Linked DNA regions of Homo sapiens. The protein of the gene in region 3 interacts with the protein of the main gene of each other region in a biochemical or structural test. Each region holds a gene or a part of one and is shown on either strand. Other genes may lie near its edges.

Region 1 (7,601 bases), on a different chromosome or scaffold from region 3:
TATTCTCCTTTGTAATAAATTTTGAAAAAATGGGGACCGTGCAGAAATAACAGCCTTGTGGGCTTTGAGCTCTTCATCTAAACAGTTCTGATGTCCACCAAAAGCTTCAACCAGTTCAGAGTCTGAAGAAAAGCTAAGGACGACATCGTAATAACACATGTAATCAAAGAGTCCACGCATATCTACATCAAGGGAATTCTTCACTAAGCTGAACAAGGATAACGACATTTTGAAACCCTGAGTCTTCCATTCCAAACTCTCCTGTATAAAGATAGTATAACAAAGCAGAAAACATGGGCATATCAATACCAGCTGTATTGATGTCCATTATTATCTCTGCCCCATACTCAGGTGAGGAAGAAAGCATTTAAAAAATGGACACCTTGCTGCCAAAATGGCACGATGAACAGGATAACAAGTTTCTTGAAATATGAAATCTGTATCAGTACGATACTTGTACTCATAAAGATCAGCCATATCTTTCTGCAATGTCCGGGCTTCCGGTCTAGCCAAACTGGCTTGTAGGGAAAGCTTCTTTAATGCTGACCTTCCCTCATATTCCTCCGCTAATGCATTGACATCTCTAATATCCCACCCAGAGAGGAGTTCTCGCATCTGCTTGGCATGATCGGCAGACCTATCAGATTTTCGAGGCTTAATTAAGTTCTTTTTGAAGGTAGCAGGGCCAGAGGTCTTTTTTTTTTTTTTTTTTTTTTTTTTTTTTTGAGACAGTCTGGCTTTGTCGCCCAGGCTGGAGTGCAGTGGCTCGATCTCGGCTCACTGCAAGCTCTGCCTCCCAGGTTCCCGCCATTCTCCTGCCTCAGCCTCCCGAGTAGCTGGGACTACAGGCGCCCGCCACCACGCCCGGCTAATTTTTTGTATTTTTTAGTAGAGACAGGGTTTCACCATATTAGCCAGGATGGTCTCGATCTCCTGACGTCGTGATCCGCCCGTCTCGGCCTCCCAAAGTGCTGGGATTACAGGCGTGAGCCACCGTGCCCGGCCTCTTTTTTTTGTCTTGTGGTTTCTCATGGCCATGGTCAAGGCTATACAATTTTGATTCACAACCATAGCCTTGCTGAGAATAGGATGACGTCCCTATAAAAGTCTGTTGGGCCTGTGAATTTCCCCCTACCTTCGCGGAACATGGATGAGGATAATGAGATGCATTAGCACCCATTTTCTTCAGTCATTCAGGCATTCCGTCTGCGGGTTCTTCAGAGTATAATCCTAGAGGCCATTAGGAACCTTCAACCCTGGATCCAGCAGCCTCTTTCCATCTATTTCTATGAGAACAGGGCCATTAGACCTTACTTTAGTGCATACTATTGAAGTATGAAAGGCTGTGGGCAGCCAGACACACGGACAGTGCATTCTGTAAGAACCACACAGCAAGCATCCTCAAGTGTTTACTATACAGTCTGCCCTTCGTATTCCGTAGGTTCCTCATCCACAGTTCAATCGACCTGGAGGCTCCTCCCGCCGCCGCTGCTGCTGCTGCCGCAGGGACCTCGGCCGTCGCCCCCGCCGCCTCCGCCACCAGCACCGCGGCAGGCACCGGCGCCAGCACACCGCCGCCATCCTCCTCCCACCGCCGCCGCCGCCCTCTCCTCTCCTGTCAGTGGCTCAGGCTCCGGGACTGCTCCAGTTTTCCCTCGCCGCCATTTTGATTCCTAGAGGGAGCAGGAAGGGCTCGGCTTGGACTTTTTGTGTTTTTTTTTGTTTTTTGTTTTTTTGAGGCGGAGTTTTGCTCTTGTTGCCTAGGCTGGAGTGCAGTGGCCGATCTCGGCCCACTGCAACCTCCGTCTTCCGGGTTCAAGCGATTCTACTGCCTCAGCCTCCCGCGTAGCTGGGATTACAAGCATGCGCCAATACTTCCGGTTCATTTTTGCATTTTTTTTAGTAGAGATGAGGTTTCACCATGTTGGCCAGACTGGTCTCGAACTCCTGACCTCAGGTGATCTGCCAGCTTCGGCCTCCCAAAGTCCTGGGATTACAGACATGAGCCACCGTGCCCGGCCCACTTTTAATACATTAAAGGGGTCTGTGATAAACATCCTCCTACCGCCCAAAAAAGGTTAAGGACCACTGCAATATGGGCTGTTTGCTTTAGATTTCATTTTAGATAGATGTTGATAACTGTCAGAGCTGTTCTTTTTTGGCCTTCGTTTGTATTCTAAGGAGAGTCCAGGCCTCTCCTTAGAACCCCAGATCTGGAGATCAAGCTGGCTACCGTGCCTTTCTTAATCAGCATCTCTCATACATCTCATTCTGAAATAGAAAACTAAATCTATCTTCTCCCCTAAACCTGTTCCGTTCTTCCTATGTCTCCTACTTCAGTGCACAACCTCAAAAACGACCCTATTGTATAAATCAGAAACCTAACAGTCATCCTAAACCTGTCTCCCCATCCCCTCTCTGCTTCCTTCTCGCTAATATCTCCACATTCAATGGATGTTTTAAAAATATAAACTCAAGATTTTATTGTCTTCATAATAAAAGAAAACATGACACTTAGAACTGGATCACTTGGCCGTTTCTCTTCTTACCTCCTCCCAGTTCAAAATGCTAGCATATTTTAATAGCCAGCACTCTCTTAGAGCTGCAGCTGGGCTCAACGCACTCAAGCCTTGGCACAATTTTCTGTAGTTTTAGCCCTTTCCTGGAAAATCGGCTTAATTTGCCCACGATAGCCACTCTGCTTCCTGTCATAACGCCGCTTTCCCTGGGCATACAGAGAATCCTTCTCCTTCGTGTACAGTGTCACTTTGTGGGGTTGGTGCTTGCCACACTTCTTATAGAAAGTCTGGCGGGTTTTAGGAAACTTCGTAATGTTTGTGTGAGCGCTATCGGCACGGAAAAGCCACATTCAATGGATTTTAAAAAATCTATTTGCCTAATTGTTTCTCAAAATCACCTCCACTTCTTTTCTCAAAGTCACCACTATACTAATTCCAATAAAAAGTGCTTGATTCTTCACTTAAGGAAGGTTTGCGGGCTTAGGTTGGTTCTGTTTCTGACTCCTTGCCCGGAACTGGATGCAAAGAGGACCTGGAAAGTGAAGGTGAAGAAAAGAACTTCAGAGTACTGATCAGAATTAGTCAAGGAATTTCTGCATAATGGCTAAGAATAAATCTATGACGAATCTTTTTTTTTTAATAACTAGATGTAGTGATGCATTTATTTATTTATTTATTTATTTATTTATTTATTTATTTAGACAGAGTCTGGCTCTGTCGCCAGGCTGGAGTGCAGTGGCGAGATCTCGGCTCATCACTGCAATCGCCACCTCCCAGGTTCAAGCGATTCTCCGCCTCAGCCTCCCAAGTAGCTGGGATTACAGACGCGCACCACTACGCCCAGCTAATTTTTGTGTTGTGTGTGTTTTTAGTAGAGATGGGGTTTCACCATGTTGGCCAGGCTGGTCTCGAACTCCTAACCTCGTGATCCACCCACCTCGGCCTCCCAAAGTGCTGGGATTACAGGGGTGAGCCACCGTGCCCGGCCTTAGTGCCGTATGTTTAAAAGTACGCATTTAAACATACTTTTTCAATTTGATTACTAGAGTTCCTCCATTACTATGAATTTTTAACACTAGCAGCTCTCAGAAATGGTTGTATTCCTATTCCTGAGCCAATATAGGTTTAAGTAATAGGGCTGAGCTCATAAATGGAGCAGTAATATTCCATTAGGACACAGAAAAAAGTCAACGTAGATGGCATCAGGACTGTTTATCTTCAGTCTTCCTAAAGTCGATTTTAATTGTTCTGAAAATGAAAGTACGTAGTGGATAGAGATAGGATCTTATACCAAAGGGATTATTAGTGGGGGAACTGCAGTGCCTGAACAGTGTCTGCAAGGAGGAAAAGGGGGGAAAGACTTAAAGTGGCCATTTGGTCCATCAAAGTCTCTTCTGCTATCAATCCCTTGAAATTATGTAAAAGCTAAATGTTATTCTGCATTTAGAAACTATGTTCTTAGTATTATGTACAAACACTATTTTTTAGAATGTAAATACATAAAGAGGCCTGAATTTTACTGAAAAAAAAATCTGTGAAAGATATGGTCTGCTGATAAGTTCTCTTCAGCCCTGACGCCCCTTAGAAGTCCCAAAATCTATGGAACAGGAATTACTCGGGAAATGGTGGTTTCAGTGTAAAAGATGTCATCTACCCTTTCCCTCACTGCACAGATGGTGAAGGGGAAACTCAGAGAGATAAGTCACTTCCCCAAGGTCAGACAGGGTAAAAGTGGACCGGATCTGTTTGGTCCTGAGCCCAAACATTTCGAATGGACATAAGGCTGACAAAGGAACAGTCGGTCCCAGAGCGTCAGGAGTTGAGGTGGGATGGGACCGCAGGGAAAATACTGGGTGGGATGACTTAAACTTCCCGGCACCAGGGGGCGCCAGACACTCTATTTTACCTAAAGGAGACTGGCTTCTACCGACAGGAAGGTCCCTTGCCCCCAACAAAGAGGGCGTCCAATGACGTAAACCAATCCGATTGCTCTGTGCCAGGGCCGGGATTCGCTGGCGTAGCCAGTCAGTGCTGCCCCACAGCCGCGTGCGTCTGACGTCAAGGCAGGGGCGGGATCCGGTTGGAATTTTGGCGGGTTCAGCTGTGAACGAAGAAGGCGTCCCGGCATCGGGTGAGGAGCGCGGGCCCCGGGCGTGCGTGTGACCCTCGGGCGGCGGGGCCGGGGCCGCCTCGCACGTCTCTGCGCGGGTTGCAAGGGGTCCGAGGCTAGAGGCGCGGGGTCCCGGGAGCTCGGGTGGGCGCGATCTGGATTTGGCGGCAGCTTGGGACCGCTCGGAGCTGGCATGGCCGGGCCGGGGGCTGGGAGTTGCTGGCCGTCTACTAAGGAATCGGGTTCTTCCTTTTAAACGCAGCCTTTTAAGTGCTTGCCAAGTGCCTGCCGCCTGGGCTTTCTTTTATTCATTCATTCATTCATTCATTCATTGGTTTCTCGTATTCATGATTTGCCAATGATTATTGAATGCGGACGGTGTGCATGGCTCGGATCACATTTCCGCTGCCTTCACAGCGCTTACAGTTTAAAGGCACGAGCAGGTAGTAAACAAATGCACGACAGTGGACGACTCAGGGTGGTCCAGAAAGTCTCAGAAAGATGAGTAAGTGGAGACCGAAGGGCGAGAAGGACCTGGGGGGAGCTTTCTTCGACAGAGCCTGAGACCTCAAAGCAGCTTAGTGTGTTCCAGAAGGTGGAAGCGGGCTGGCCCGGCTGGAGCATCGTTATGGGTGTCGGGGTGGGTAGAATTGGACGTGGTGGATTGTGGAAAATGTGAGGGAGTAGAAAGCTTGGAAAGAGAGAGAGAATATGAATCATTGCCTCGCAGGCTTTGTAGATTTTTTCTAAGGGCAATGGAAAATCATTAAAGAATTTCAATGAAGGGACCCCCATGATCTGATTTATGTTCCTAAAGGTTACTAAGGAAAGGGAAGATTACCGTGGCTGTCGTATGCAGAACAGATTGCACGGGGACAAAGAGACCAACATAGAAAGCTAACACAGTCATTGGGTTAAAGGTTGACGGTGGCTTGGCCTAGGGTTCTGGCAGTGAAGTTGGAGAGAAGTGGCAGATTTGAGCAGTGTTTTGGAGATGGGACCACAGTACTTGTCAGTGGCCGTGGATTTGAGGGCGAGGGAGGGTGCACAGTTTCATTTTGGGGGAAGGCAAGGCCGGTTACAGACTTGAACGAGACAGTTTGCTCCTAACGCTCAGGAAGCTTACTGTCCAATAGGTTCCCCAGTAGATAGCACAGTGTGTGGCACATGAGGGATCCGTGGAAATGTTGGTTGAATGAATTTTTAAAAAGCGGCCAGGCGCGGTGGCTCACGCCTGTAATCCCAGCGCTTTGGGAGGCCAAGGCGGACGGATCACCAGGTCAGGAGATCGAGACCATCCTGGCTAATACGGTGAAACCCCATCTCTACTAAAAATACAAAAAATTAGCCGGGCGTGGTGGCGGGCGCCTGTAGTCCCAGCTACTCGGGAGGCTGAGGCAGGAGAATGGCGTGAACCCGGGAGGCGGAGCTTGCAGTGAGCCAAGATCGCCCCATTGCACTCCAGCCTGGGTGACAGAGACTCCGTCTCAAAAAAAAAAAAAAGCACCTTTGGGAGTCCAAGGCTGATGGATCACTTGACATCAGGAGTTCAAGACCAGCCTGGGCAACATGGCGAAACCCTGTCTCTACAAAAAACACAAAAATTAGCCGGGTGTGGTAGTGCACGTTTGTAATCCCAGCTACTTGGGAGGCTGGGGCAGGAGAATCACTGGAGCCTGGGAGGCGGAGGTTGTAGTGAGCCAATAGCACCACTGCACTCCAGCCCCAGCGACAGAGCGAGATCCTGTCTAAAAAAAGAAAAGAAAGTACCATAATCACTGTAATTAGTTCCTTGACATTGAACTTGCCAAAGAGCACATGTAAGTTAAATAAGAGCCTAGAAAAATGTATACTTTCTTACTTGCAGTTTAAAAAATAACCTTAAATGAAAAGAGAAGTGCACAAAGTGATACAACTTTGTCTTAATTAGCTACGCTGTTTCTCTGTGCTTTGCTGACTAGTATTGAATCAAAATCCTGATTGTCACTAAGGCTCCACCTAAGTAGAATCATACAGTAAGCTGTCGTGGATAACGCAGATGTCAGGTGTATTACAGTGAATAAAATGAAAGAATAGCCTAATGTAGATCGACCCCAATAATTTGTGTGTGTGTGTGTGTAATTTTTAAAAAAGACAAGGTCTTGCTATGTGACCAGGCTGGTCTCAAACTTCTGGCCTCAAGTGATGCGCCCACCTTAGCTTCCCAAAGTGCTGGTATTACAGGCGTTGAGCCACTGTACCTAGCCAACCCCAATAGTTCTTCCTCATAATTTATCTCATCCACGTAATCTAGTGTGATTTACAAACTGCTCTGCAGCTCAATAACTTTCTGTAACCTTAAACACAAGTAAAAGTGAGCTGCTACATCCAAGGAAGGAGATGGCATTGGCGGTGTGGAGAGAGGAGGTGAGAAATGGTCAGATTCTGGATGAATTCTGAGGTTAGAGCCCATAGGAGTGGTAGGATTCTGGGTTTGTTGGATGTGTGTTGTGAGAGAAAGAGAAGAATTGAAAGTGACATTTCTAATATTGCTTTCACACAGCCAAGATTCTACATTGCTCATCTGGGCATCTGAGCCTCCTTCGAAGTTTCCTGTCACAACTGTCCTCTTGACAGCATGGATGGTAAGACCTGGCAGTTTTCTGTTACTCTGTTTCAAGGAAAACTAACCTTTTGTCCATGGACTTGTTATTTATTCTACCTGTAAAATGGTGAAAATGCTCCCCAGCCCTCAGGTATTGTCTTAGTGGTTCTGAAGCAATCTCACATCTCACAGAGGTCACTGAATGTTACTTGCTTTTATCAGGGGAGATTTCTTCTGGCAACAGAGATTGTCTTTCATAATTACAATAGCTGGTAGGTGTACAGTGGGCCAGGCACTGCTCCAAGATCCTTGTGGAAATTAACTGATTCAGTCCTCAGGCAAACGTATTTTATAGGCAGAAAAACAGGGATGTTTAGTAACTTGTCAC
Region 2 (4,339 bases), on a different chromosome or scaffold from region 3:
CATATGCATCCAGGACTGTTCAATTCTATGCCCTTTCTCCTCTTAGCATCTGTCTCTCAGATGGGGTAATGAAATGACTTAAAACCAATATAATCCCCAAATGGATGCAAGGAAAAGACCTTTAACTCATTCTAGAGGATTCTAATCTTCTACTTCAGAAATTTAAGTTCTTAATATCTCAGAAGCAGTTTGTGTTCCCAACTCACTCGAATACACTTTAAGACATCATGGCATGAGACCACCCACAGATCTTGTCTAGTTGCTTAATTATACTCAGTGCAAGAGGCTTTGAGGGTGGGTGAGTGGGGATGTAGTTTAGTCATTAGAACATACTTAGAATATAGGCTAGCCTGTTTACAAAATTAGGACAAATTCTTCCATACAGTTTTTTTTTTAAATTCAGATTACTTTTACTTACAAAAACTAGTATCTCGATAACTGTGATTAAAAAAAATTATGTATGTACAGAATGTTTTGAGATTTAACAAAGTACACCTAGAGAACATAAAAATTCTTTATTTAACCTAATCCAGCCAGTATTGAGATAGTTTGCTATATTAAAAACAAGACGTTTAAAAAAATTACAGCAAAGTTAGCAAGGCAGTGACTAATTAAGTCACTAAGTTTAATTTTATATTCTTCACAGTCATTTCATAATCATGTAATGGTAAACAATATTTTCAGCCACTTTGGAGATAAGTTAACTTTTGAAAAGAATTCTAGTAGTCGTCATTGAATTTTATAAAAGAGGTTTAAAACATTAAAGTTTCCAGAAATAACACAGTAAAGAAATATGAAAATAAACTGGAAAATAAAATATACCCACCCATCCGAAAAATCTACATCATCTCTTTCATTTGTCCCCAATGCCTTTCTTTTACCTCTCCATTTACTTTTCCTAGAGTGCAAACAGATTACTTAGCAATTAAGAAACAACTACTGCTTTGTAGGGGCGATTTTGAGCCTAAGTGCTGCTGTTCCTTTAATCTCTCAGTTAATCCTAGAAATAGTCTTCTGAGATAAACATTATTTGCATTTCAAAGATTAAGAAAACTGCAGTTGAGAGAAAGTCAAATCCTTTAGCCAAAATCATACATACAGTTATTGAAAGCTGAACTATGATTTGAACCCAGGTCTATCCAACTTTAAGTCTGCCTATGCTCTTTTGTTGCTTCATGGTCAGGCAGGTCACCTTCCTGGGAAGACTGGCATGTGGTATTTCTCGAGCTAATAATAATAAGGCTCTTTAGGTTTAAAAGTGTTCAATTCGGGGCTAGAGGCCACTCTGGTCCTCAGGCACTTGCAGTTCCCTCCCCGCAACCCTAAAAAAACCCTCCCTCCTGCCCCAAAAGGATTAGAGTTGTTCCCCGGCCTTCATGAGCCCTAATACCTATAAAACCAAGCAGCTACTCCCTGTCAAGGGCATTAATGTAGTAAATGGGGAACTGTGTGTTTGCATAACTTTAGTAAAGGCTGCCTAAAAACTGTTCTATACAACAAAATTTTGCAAGATATGTGTCCATTTAATGTATCTTTCACATTGAAAACAAAAGCCAATATATTTTATAATTACAGCCTATAATCTAAGTTTTTAAAATATATAACCATAGATGTTATATTTCCCCTTCAGAACTGTAGTAGTGTTCTTAATAAGGCTCACTGTTAGTCAAATCTTCATCTCCAAATAATACAAATTTGAATGTTCAACAGTCATTCAAATAAACATCATATAACTCAAAATTAAGACATTCATACTATAGAAACCAGTCTTTAATTACTAAAGTTAACATATATTATTGCAAACTAACATAGCTCAATCTATATTTGCTACACTCCTAAAGTGGCCGCTTATCAGTAAGGGGAAACATTTATTATTGACATGCATTACTGTGAACAAGAAAATAAATAGGGTTTTGAAAATATCTCTTAAAAATTTAATTTTAATTAACAAAAATAACCATTCAGGTTGCTGAACATTAAAATGGCCAATCTATTGAAAATGGCTTCAATAATTGCTTTTAAAAATGAATACAAAACTAAACAGTGATTAAGGTGCTAGCCTCATCAATAGGACAATTAAAATCTAAAAACATTAGTGTTGATTTTCTATAATAAACTTAAGCCAAAAACAATGACCTCAATATTTACTTAAGACTTCTTGTTTTCATACTTTTCTCCTCATTAATATAAAAACAAAGAGCTCAAGGCCTCACCTTGGTTTATTCACTGCTGGTTTTCTATGTGCTGAAACTAGACTGTCAACTCTGTAAGAGCTTGGACCAAGTCTGTCTTGTTCACCACTATGTCCTACAGCACTCTGCACAGTGCCTGGGAAATAGGAGGTGATCAACGAATATCTCAATAACTGAATCAATGCAAGAGGAGAGTAAAATAACTTTATTTTTATTTTTGCAAATCATCCTCTGCTCAAACTACTATAAACTGGCAGCTGTAATTTCTAGAAATATGGGTTGAAAAAACTCCCAGAGATGGAAGGACCTGATGAAACACTGAAACACACAAATACACACACACACACACACACACACACACACACACACACGACTGCATGAGTCAAAATTACTTCATGAAGTATGAGATGTCAACATTATGTAAATAAAATTTAATATTGAAAAAGTGATCTGGAAGCCCTGTGAATTTTTACCCTACACATTTTGGAGGACATCACATGGGTTAAAGAAAACACCACAAAATCTCATTTGTTCAGATAATCATTTGAATGTTTACATACATTTTTGGTTATTTATTTATAACTAATTTAATTTACATTTCCTCATATTAACATATCCTCTTATTTAGTATGTAATCAAATTATGTCAGTGAGAAAAATCCTCATAGTACCTTGAGTTGCTGATTCTGAGAAAACACTAAACATGAACATGTACAAAAGAGGCATTTGAATAAAACAGCATGTGCATTTTTTTAATATTTGCACAGTTTGATCTTTGCATTTCTGTCTGGAGAAAATATGAACAAAACCCAGGTTTACCATGCTAAGATAATGGTTCATATGACTGCCATAAAAGTAGTACATACAAACAATGAAAACAAATCACATCCTTAGGTTCCATGATTACCGAGATGATTTCCCCTGCCCTAAGTGCTTTATTATATTTCTTAAAAAATATAGGAGCAGCAGCTTATCACAAGTCTCCACAAGTGCATTAATGATGGAATCAAAACAACACAACAGATTCATAAGGATGAGAGAACTGCAGAACAACCAGAAGTCAGTTTTATGCTTCTTCTTGTTCTGGATAATTCAGAATTTTGCGGTGTGCCTGTCGTAAATATTGCTGCTGTTTGAAGTAAACTTTAAATGCTCCTTTTATGGCAACAAACGCAATTCCACCCTAAAATAAAAAGGAAAATTAGCTTTTTATAATGCAGATTTAGAGAAACAGAGTAATAAAAATAATTTTATTTAGATCACAAAAGACGTAGGCTTTGATGCTAAACTAATTCAGATGACTGCAAATGAAACAGTTTTCTTTTTCTACTAGGAGATGAGATAGGGAGAGAGACAGACTATACGCTGTTACTACAGGTAACAGGGGACACAGATGCCTTCTCCATTATCCTTTCTGACTAGTCTTTCTTCCATGTAGTTCTACATATACTCTGATATACAAAGAAGAATGCTAGGGCACTATGTGCAGACTGCCACTGTTGGGAGCAAGAAAGGCCAAAGGGATCGTGACCAACTCAGCATTCCACTGGAGGCTATATGACCAAACAGCAAACTGTTTATCATGAATGCAGGATGTGAGTAAACTCACACTGAGCCTGCCACCAAAGGGTTTGCTGGGGGCCATCACTCCCTGGTGCAGGGCTCCTTGAACTTATCTACTGGGAAATCTAGCGCCTACTGTTCAAATGATGCAGTCTCGCAAGCCTGCTGTGAACCAAACTGCCAAATGGACTGACAATTACCCGACAATCACCCCTGCTTCTCACTATCTCTTTTGCCTAATAAATACAGAGGGCTGTGTAAAGCTCAGGGCCCTTGTCCACTAGAGGCAAGGTGCCCCCTGACCCCTTCTTCCAAATATACTCTCTTGTCTTTGTCTTTTATTCCCACGTTTGCCCCCTTTGTTCAGTCCTCCAAGGTCCGTGCAGGTTACATGCCACCAGAGGGGAGAAGTGGGAGTAACAATAATAGCAAACAACATGAGTGCTTACTATGTGCTAGTACTTATACAATCCTCACAATAATCCTGATTATTACCATCACCATACTACAGGAACAAAAAGTCCAGACATTTGATTTAGATTTCACAGCAAGACAATTTCTGTGATGGGATTTGAACCAGGTGGT
Region 3 (7,913 bases):
CCCAGGGGAGGGGGTGGTTAGGGGACAAGCAGCAGTTGCCCTTGGGAGTCACAAGTGCTGGTTCTTGGCTGTGTACGTGTGCCCAGGGCCCTGTGTGCACACCTGGTCATCCATGAGTGACAGCAGGGGAGAGACGACCAACGTGAGGCAGGGGCTGCGCCGGCTGTAGAGCAGCGCTGGGAGCTGGTAGCACAGGGACTTGCCGGCACCTGTAGGCAGCACCAGCAGCGTGGAGATGCCTGGATGGGGCGGGAGTCAGCAGCAGGGTTCTGCAGCCTGGCCTCAGCCCAGCCTCAGCCCTGGCAGCCACGCTCACCAGACAGGATCCGCATGACTGCACGCTCCTGCCCAGGGCGAAAGGCTTGGTGCCCCAGCTGCTCCAGGGCCTGGAACACCTCAGCCGGCGTCTCTGCAGACACAGATGTTGATCACCATGACTTGAGTCACCCCAACCCCTCAGTGAAGGCTCTGGGCCAGAAGCTGACTGCTCACCTGCCAACTGCCCTGAGGGCCCCAGGGAGTAGAGTGGCAGCACGGTGGGGTCCAGGCTGGGCACCTCAGGTACAGGTTGTGGTGAAGGAACCAGTGGCTCAGGCCCAACAGCATCTGTGTCTTCCTCACTTGCTGGGGCAGGCAGGAGAGGGTAGAATGGGAGCTCCAGGTCGGGCAAGACAACCACTGGCCACAACCTCTCCTTCCCCCAAAGGGGGTTGGCAGCAGGCAGTGCCCTTCCTCTGGGCTACTTTTTCCAAAGCAGAAAAGAGTGACAGCCATCGTCGTCCCTGCCACCCTCCTTCAGGGGAGCTAGGGTAGGGCCTGGACCAGGGGTACCTGGAAGGCCTGTTGCTTGGAACATAAGTGTCCCCCAAAAGAGCACTGCGCCCTCTCCACAGTGTTGGCCGGACCCACCCTCCAGGGCAGATGTCTCACCTGGCCGGGGACACTGGGCTGCCCAGTGATCGAACTGCTCGTTCAGGAAACAAGACTCCTTGGTTGTGACTGTGGCACCACCACCCCCAAAACACTCCCCTTTCTTCCGCCACTTCTGCTTCCATGCCTGGGGGGTGCCCACATAGGAGGGTCACTGGGCGGGAAATACGGGAGGGCTGAGGGGAGGGAAAGGGAATGCCTGTCCTGGCCCGTCGCTGTCTTACCTGCTTGCGGAGGAGCCTGCTACGGAGTGCCCGGCCCCGCACGTAGTGTTTCTGCTTCATGTTGAGCCGTACGTAATTGCCCCTGTCATGGCGGGCCAGCCGAGGGAAGATGTGCAGGGGGGCTGTGCCCTCAGCCTTCCCAGCCCTAGCTTGACTGGAGGGGCTGAGTCCGTGGTACCTGGGGTTCGATGGGCTGCTGCAGGGCTGAGGTGGCTGTGCCTGTACAGGTTCCCCTGGAGGGTCTTCCTCAACTGCTACAGCCCCAGCCCCCTCCGATGGGGGTCCAGCTTGGCTGCTCTCCTGCTGGACCTGTGCGGGGCTCTCCCAGGGCTCCTCGTTCCATCTCCGCTTCTCGCCTCCACTGCTGCTGGGCTGGGGGCTCCCCACACGGATGCTGACTTCTTGGAAGGCTGAAGCCTCTGGGCCCTGGGAGCCAGCACCAGGACCAAGGACAGCCGACTCACCAGGGATCAGAAGTTGTGATTCCTCTGAGCCTAGATCAGGCCTGCAGGCTTTGGGGGCCCCCAGAAAATCTGGGACCTCACTGTGACATCGCTGTAACCAGCCAGGATCTAGGGAGCCCAGCCGCTGGCTCAGGGATGCCTGCAGATGCTGGAGCCGGCCTGGCCTTGGCTGGGGCTCAGGGAGCTGTGGAGGCTCATCACTGACTTTTTCTGCAAAGGAGGGGACAGGCCCTGTACCTGGGGGCTTTGGGGTGGATGCCTTAGATGAGGCTCTTCCTAGAGGCCACGGTCTGCGGCCCAGGGCTGGTCCGGCCTGGGAGGGGAACAACAGAACAGCAGGAGGAACTCAGGCCCCTGAGCTACTGTAGACTCTAAAACCTACCTGAGTCCCCACGCTCAATTGTAGAGCAGGCTAATTAGCACAAGGCTGGACTAGAAAGGGAGTCAAGGGCGAAGGCCCCGAGAAGCTCCCTGAAGACTCGTGCCCTGGTTGGCACAGGGGCCCGTGCCTGTCTGTGTGGAAAAAATGACAAGAGGGCGACCCGGACCGGAAGCAGCTGTGGACCTAGCGTGGACTCACTGCCTGCCCACTCCTCACCTGCAGGGTGCCTTTCAGATTGGCCTTGAGCCGCTGCCCGTAGTCCGGCACCGAGCCCTGGCGGCTCCGCCCTGGCGTAGACTGTGGACTCTTGGTCGCAGCCCGATTCAGATGGGGCCCCCAGCAGCGGGGCTCTGGCGCCTGCAGGAGACAACAGGGGCACAGGCCAGAAAAGGCTGTTGTGGCGGCAGAAGCGCTCCCAGCCACCCCTCCCGCACCTGGAGCGAGGCCCGGCCCTTCTTCACTTTGCCCAGTCCCCCTCCCAAGTTCTGTGCCCCACGGCGGCCTGGCCGCGACTCCGTGGCTCCCGCCACTCCGCCAAACAGGGAAGTGGGAGGAGGCTGGGGCGGCGGGGCCTGGGTACCTCTTCGGCCGCCGCGGGGAGCGACTCGGAGCTGCGGAGCCCGCCGCCGGCCTGGCCCGTGGTACGCTTCAGAGTGCGGTATTCCCGGTAGAGCGCTGCGTGGGCGAGCGGGAGGCGGGGTCAGGGTGGGGCCTGGGCCCCTGCCGACCCGGTGTCTTCTCGCCCCCGCCGCCCCGCCGCGCGCTCACCGCGGGTCTCCTCCGGCGCCGCCTCCACGTCGTCCTGTAAAGGGAACGCGTCAGCCGCGGGCCGCGCCCTCAGCCCCTCGGCCCCTGGGCAGCCCGCACCTGGCTCGGTCGCCGCCCGCGCTGCCGTCGGAACGCGCGCTCCCACGCCTGCAGCCGCTCCCGCACGTCCCGCAGCCGCTCCATGGCGCGCGCGCCCGCCCGGCCTCCGCGCTTGCGATCGTCCAGCGAATCTCCCGCGCAGCCGTCGCGGGGGCCGACAGCCAATGCGGATGCGCGGCGGGCCGGGGGCGGGGCCACCGCCCCTGGGCAGCCAGTCCGTCGGGCCTCGGACAAGCAGCCAATGGGAGGCGTCAACGTCATCGCGGGGCGCCGCGGCGCCGGGCGGGGAGCGGCGGACGGTCTAGGCGGGGCTGGAGGCGGTGGCTGCGGTTGCGGGACCGGTGAGCGCGGGCGGCCGGGGGGGTGTCTGAGCGGGGCGGCGCACGCCCCTGGCCCTGCCTGGCCTCAAGGGGCGGGGCACCGGTCGCTCGGGGCGGCCTGGCCGAGGGAGGCAGTGGCTGCATTTGGGAGCCCGGGGCCGAGGCCGGGAGCCTGGGAGGTGCCACCGCGGGCCGGGAAGGACTGGGAGTCCCCGGGCCGGTCGGAGCGGCGTCAGGCCCTGGTGGGAGACGCATCCGACCTGGAGGAGCAGGCCCCGCTCGGGAGGCGAAAGAGCGGAGGGTCCAGCGCCTCCCGCGGCTCGAGGCCCGGAGGAGCCGGGCGGGGGCGTCTTCGCGAAACGCAGGCGACCGAGGACCGTCGCGTTCCCTGCGGCCGGCGGGAGGGGAGGGGGCGTCGCACGGAGGTGCCTGCCTCCCTTGGTGGGCAGGCCGTCTGCTTTGGTGTTCTCCCGTGACAAGTGCTCGGTTGGTCTGTCCTGTCAGAGCGAGTATGATCGTTGAGATCTGTCCACCGGCAGAACTAGGCCGAGGGTTGGTGTCTGGGACTTTTCAGGAACCGGTGCCTTAAGGACTTACTTGTATGTGGAAAAGTCGACAAAAAGAAGGGCCTTGGGGCCAGAGTGTCTTCCCCGGCCCCCTTCCCTGGCTTGTCACTCAGGCTGTGACCTTGGGCCAGGCCGAGGCCTTCATTTTCTAATCTGTCACAGGGAGATGGCTGCGATTTAGTTTTGAGGATGCTACAGGCAGCAGCAGGGCTGGCACCCTGTGTCACAGGTACCTTGTGGCCTTGGGAGTGTTTGTGCATCTCTGCAGCTTGGGTGCTGCTGAGGCAGCTTTCTTTGCCTTGTCTGAGCAGTCTGTAGCTTTGCACCTTCTGAATCCCACATACTTAAGACTTGGTCTTTCCACAGTGGCTCTCCAGGGAAGAGGGAGAGGTTTAGGCCAGTGGTAAGGGCCAACAAAGGTGAGGGTTGCTTTCTTTCGGGGTCTCCGTGCTTGGTGACGCTCTGGAGAATAGTAGCTTTTGCGGGGGCTTGTATTTTATAGGCTACATCATCTGGACTCGGTGTTCCCTGGGTCTCGGTCTTTTCAACCTGCCTTGTTGCTTATGAAGCTGCTTCTGTGCTTCCAGCTCTTTGGTGTTTTGTGGAGTCCAAGTGTAGCCCTGGAGAGCATCTGTGAGGAGAGGGGAGGGAAAGGTGATTTGGCTGCTTGACTCCTTAGAGTGTCCCGTCAATACTAATGCTGATGAAGGTTGGTGGGGAGAGTCCTGGGCTTTATTCAGGTTTCGAAGAAGGTTTTGTGAAGCAGCTTTGTAATTTGAGAGGCCTGAAGTACCCATGGGGGGCCCTGCAAGGCAACAGGCATCTGTCAAAAGCATACCCAAGCAAGCGAGTTGTTGACGATGCCACACTGCTTGACGCTTAGTTTCTCTAAAGAGATCCTGTGCATCTGGAGGGCTGGGGCTGAGTTGTGAGTTTGTCTGCCAGTTCACTGCACCCAGCCCAGCGCTAGGCATCTAATAGGTGCTTCTCTGTGCCATGGCCACTGCTAACTGCTGACTTTGTTTCAGGCACTATGCTGGGCCTTCCTACCACTTGTGTGTGGCTTGGTAGTGGCCTAGGGTCTCTCCTCCCTGCTGAAGTCCCTCTCCTGCAGGTGGCCGTCTGCCCGGCCCAGCACCATGCACACGCTTGTGTTCTTGAGCACACGGCAGGTGCTGCAGTGCCAGCCAGCTGCCTGCCAGGCCCTGCCCTTGCTGCCACGCGAACTCTTCCCCCTGCTGTTCAAGGTGGCCTTCATGGACAAGAAGACAGTGGTACTGCGCGAGTTGGTACACACGTGGCCCTTCCCGCTGCTCAGTTTCCAGCAGCTGCTACAGGAGTGTGCCCACTGCAGCCGTGCCCTCCTGCAGGAGCGGCCTAGCACTGAGAGCATGCAGGCTGTTATCCTGGGGCTGACTGCCCGGCTCCACACCTCAGAGCCTGGGGCCAGCACACAGCCCCTCTGCAGGTATGGACTTATCTGGAGGGTCGTCAGGCCAGGGGTGTGTAAGTGGGTCCCCTGAGGAGGCTTGGGTCATAAAGTTAGCAAGAGCTCATGCAGGAGCAGGCGCGTTGCTCCTGTCCCAAGGTGGCTGGGAGGGGGTATGGGCGCTGCCCCTCCACCCCTTCCTCACACCATTCCTACTCCCAGGAAGCATGCGCTGCGGGTGCTGGACATGACGGGCCTCTTGGATGATGGTGTGGAACAGGATCCTGGCACCATGAGCATGTGGGACTGTACTGCTGCCGTAGCTCGCACATGCATTGCCCAGCAGCAGGGTGGGGCCGCAGAGCCTGGGCCAGCCCCCATCCCCGTGGAGGTGCGCGTGGACCTGCGGGTGAACCGGGCCTCCTATGCGTTCCTGCGGGAGGCACTCCGAAGCAGCGTGGGCAGCCCGCTGCGGCTCTGCTGCCGGGACCTGCGAGCTGAGGACCTGCCCATGCGCAACACTGTGGCCCTGCTGCAGCTTCTGGATGCAGGCTGCCTGCGCCGCGTGGACCTGCGCTTCAACAATCTGGGCCTGCGCGGCCTGTCTGTGATCATCCCACACGTGGCCCGCTTCCAGCACCTGGCCAGCCTGCGGCTCCACTATGTGCATGGGGATTCAAGGCAGCCCTCCGTGGATGGCGAGGACAACTTCCGCTACTTCCTTGCCCAGATGGGCCGCTTCACCTGTCTGCGTGAGCTCAGCATGGGCTCCTCTCTCCTTTCAGGGAGGCTGGACCAGCTGCTCAGGTGAGCGGGCCCCACCACTGCCCTGCCCCTCCCTTCTGTAGGGACCCTCCCTGGCTCTGCCTGTCTGTGACCCCTGTGTCCCCTGTAGCACCCTGCAGAGCCCCCTGGAGAGCCTGGAGTTGGCCTTCTGTGCTCTGCTGCCTGAGGACCTACGCTTCCTGGCACGGAGCCCACATGCTGCCCACCTCAAGAAGTTGGACCTGAGTGGTAACGACCTGTCTGGCAGCCAGCTGGCACCCTTCCAGGGTCTGTTGCAGGCATCAGCAGCCACACTGTTGCATCTGGAGCTGACTGAGTGTCAGCTCGCAGACACCCAGCTGTTGGCCACACTACCCATCCTGACTCAGTGCGCCAGTCTCCGGTACCTTGGCCTCTATGGCAACCCACTGTCCATGGCGGGCCTCAAGGAGCTGCTGCGGGACTCAGTGGCACAGGCTGAGCTGCGTACTGTGGTGCACCCCTTCCCTGTGGACTGCTATGAGGGCTTGCCCTGGCCGCCGCCTGCCTCTGTCCTGCTGGAGGCCTCCATCAATGAGGAGAAGTTTGCCCGCGTAGAAGCTGAGTTGCACCAGCTGCTTCTAGCCTCAGGCCGTGCCCATGTGCTCTGGACCACGGACATCTACGGGCGACTGGCTGCGGACTACTTCAGCCTATGATGAAGTAGCTCTGGGTGAGACACAGGCCGCCCTGCAGTCTCTTTAGGTAGGCAGGGCCTTTGCTGGGACCCCTGGTGGAGGCCTTCACAAAAGCACTGGTTACTGGTTTCCTGCTGGGTCTACCTTGCTTCTGGGCACACCTCAAGCCTCCCCTGCTTTCTGCAGTGCCCCACGCGGTTTTCCCTGCACTTGCTCCATAATTGGCTGATCATCTGTGGGCCCCGGGGCTGGATGTCAGGCCTCCATTGCCCTGCTCAGTTTGGCTGCATTTGGCTGCCGTCTGGGGTCCTGGTCCTTTGTGCAAATGCTTTGGGATTCCAGTTGTGAGCTGAGAGAGATGATGGCCTCTCTGGGCCTTTCCTCTCCCTTTACTGAGAGCTCAGTGCTTCTGGGGTTGAAGTTGGACAGAGGCCTGCTTCAGGGAAGCTGGGAGTCCCCAGGCACTCACGCCTCTTACGTGTTCCCTACCCTGCCACCCAGCCACCCCACTGGGCTGGGCTCGGGCTGGAGGGGGTCATCAAGGTACACATGTGCCTGGAAGTTGAATTTGTGGCTGTTTTTTTTTCTGTCCACGTTGGTCACCCTTATCCTTATCTCTGCTGTCACCCCCAACATGGCCACCCGGCAACAACTGCCATCCAGCCTGTCGCCCCGCCCTTCGCGGGGCAGCCCCGTCGGCACTGCCGGCCAGTCCTTGCTCTTCCCACCTTTCGGAGGCCCAAGATCCTACTGTGGCCGGCCAGGGCCAGCGAGGGACCCCCCCCATGCAGAGCTGGAGGTTGGGGTGATGTCTTTTCGGAAGAGCTTCAAGGGAGGTGTTGGGGCCTCCCCGGCCACCTTCCATTGCTACCCCAGGATTCCCGAGTGCAACGTTCCCGGCTCGCGCCCCACACACGGCTCAGCGCACACTGCGCGGCTTCCACCTTTACTGACGGAGCATGCGCGAGGCCGCACCGGCCAATCTCCGGCGCCCACGTCATCCGCGCGCCCGCGGCCCTAGCAGTGGATCTCGTAGGCGACCGGCGGGGGCACGCGGAGTCCCGGCCCCGCCCCCTGTTCCGGGCCGCAGTCAGCGGGCGCCTCCGCCGGACCCTCGGCGAAGAGCGGCTTGGAGCGGTTGATGACGAACATCTCGTGGCCGCGCTCGTCGCGGAGCTCCTCTAGCTGTGCGAACGTACAGGGGCCGTCCAAGTAGTCGTTGACGAACAGCGCTCCCTCCCCCGGAGGCCCCCGCGCCTTTTTTCGCCTGCGGCGCCGGCGACAGATCA

What was found.
Region 1: the proteins of RECQL4 (region 3) and MCM10 form a complex in vitro, tested with the Homo sapiens proteins (one study listed by BioGRID).
Region 2: the proteins of RECQL4 (region 3) and MARCHF5 form a complex in vitro, tested with the Homo sapiens proteins (one study listed by BioGRID).

What each region holds. Positions count from the first base shown.
Region 1 is NC_000010.11:13,156,957-13,164,557, forward strand, and holds the start of MCM10 (protein MCM10 homolog), read left to right. Parts: upstream 1-4,601; 5' UTR 4,602-4,650; exon of another isoform or gene 4,651-5,269; intron 5,270-7,171; 5' UTR 7,172-7,246; coding exon 7,247-7,253; intron 7,254-7,601. UniProt on the Homo sapiens protein: Acts as a replication initiation factor that brings together the MCM2-7 helicase and the DNA polymerase alpha/primase complex in order to initiate DNA replication. Additionally, plays a role in preventing DNA damage during replication.
Region 2 is NC_000010.11:92,350,126-92,354,464, reverse strand, and holds the end of MARCHF5 (E3 ubiquitin-protein ligase MARCHF5), read right to left. Parts: intron 3,375-4,339; coding exon 3,258-3,374; 3' UTR 501-3,257; downstream 1-500. UniProt on the Homo sapiens protein: Mitochondrial E3 ubiquitin-protein ligase that plays a crucial role in the control of mitochondrial morphology by acting as a positive regulator of mitochondrial fission and as an important regulator of immune response.
Region 3 is NC_000008.11:144,514,834-144,522,746, forward strand, and holds the start of RECQL4 (ATP-dependent DNA helicase Q4), read right to left. Parts: upstream 3,001-7,913; 5' UTR 2,952-3,000; coding exon 2,868-2,951; exon of another isoform or gene 2,803-2,867; coding exon 2,769-2,802; intron 2,676-2,768; coding exon 2,581-2,675; intron 2,358-2,580; coding exon 2,217-2,357; intron 1,932-2,216; coding exon 1,155-1,931; intron 1,058-1,154; coding exon 931-1,057; intron 625-930; coding exon 493-624; intron 410-492; coding exon 317-409; intron 240-316; coding exon 103-239; intron 1-102. Other genes in the region: LRRC14 (leucine-rich repeat-containing protein 14), read left to right, coding at 4,893-5,221, 5,405-5,989, 6,078-6,645; LRRC24 (leucine-rich repeat-containing protein 24 precursor), read right to left, coding at 7,642-7,913. UniProt on the Homo sapiens protein: An ATP-dependent DNA helicase which unwinds dsDNA with a 3'-overhang in a 3'-5' direction. Does not unwind more than 18 bp of dsDNA. May modulate chromosome segregation. The N-terminal domain (residues 1-54) binds DNA Y-shaped DNA better than ss- or dsDNA.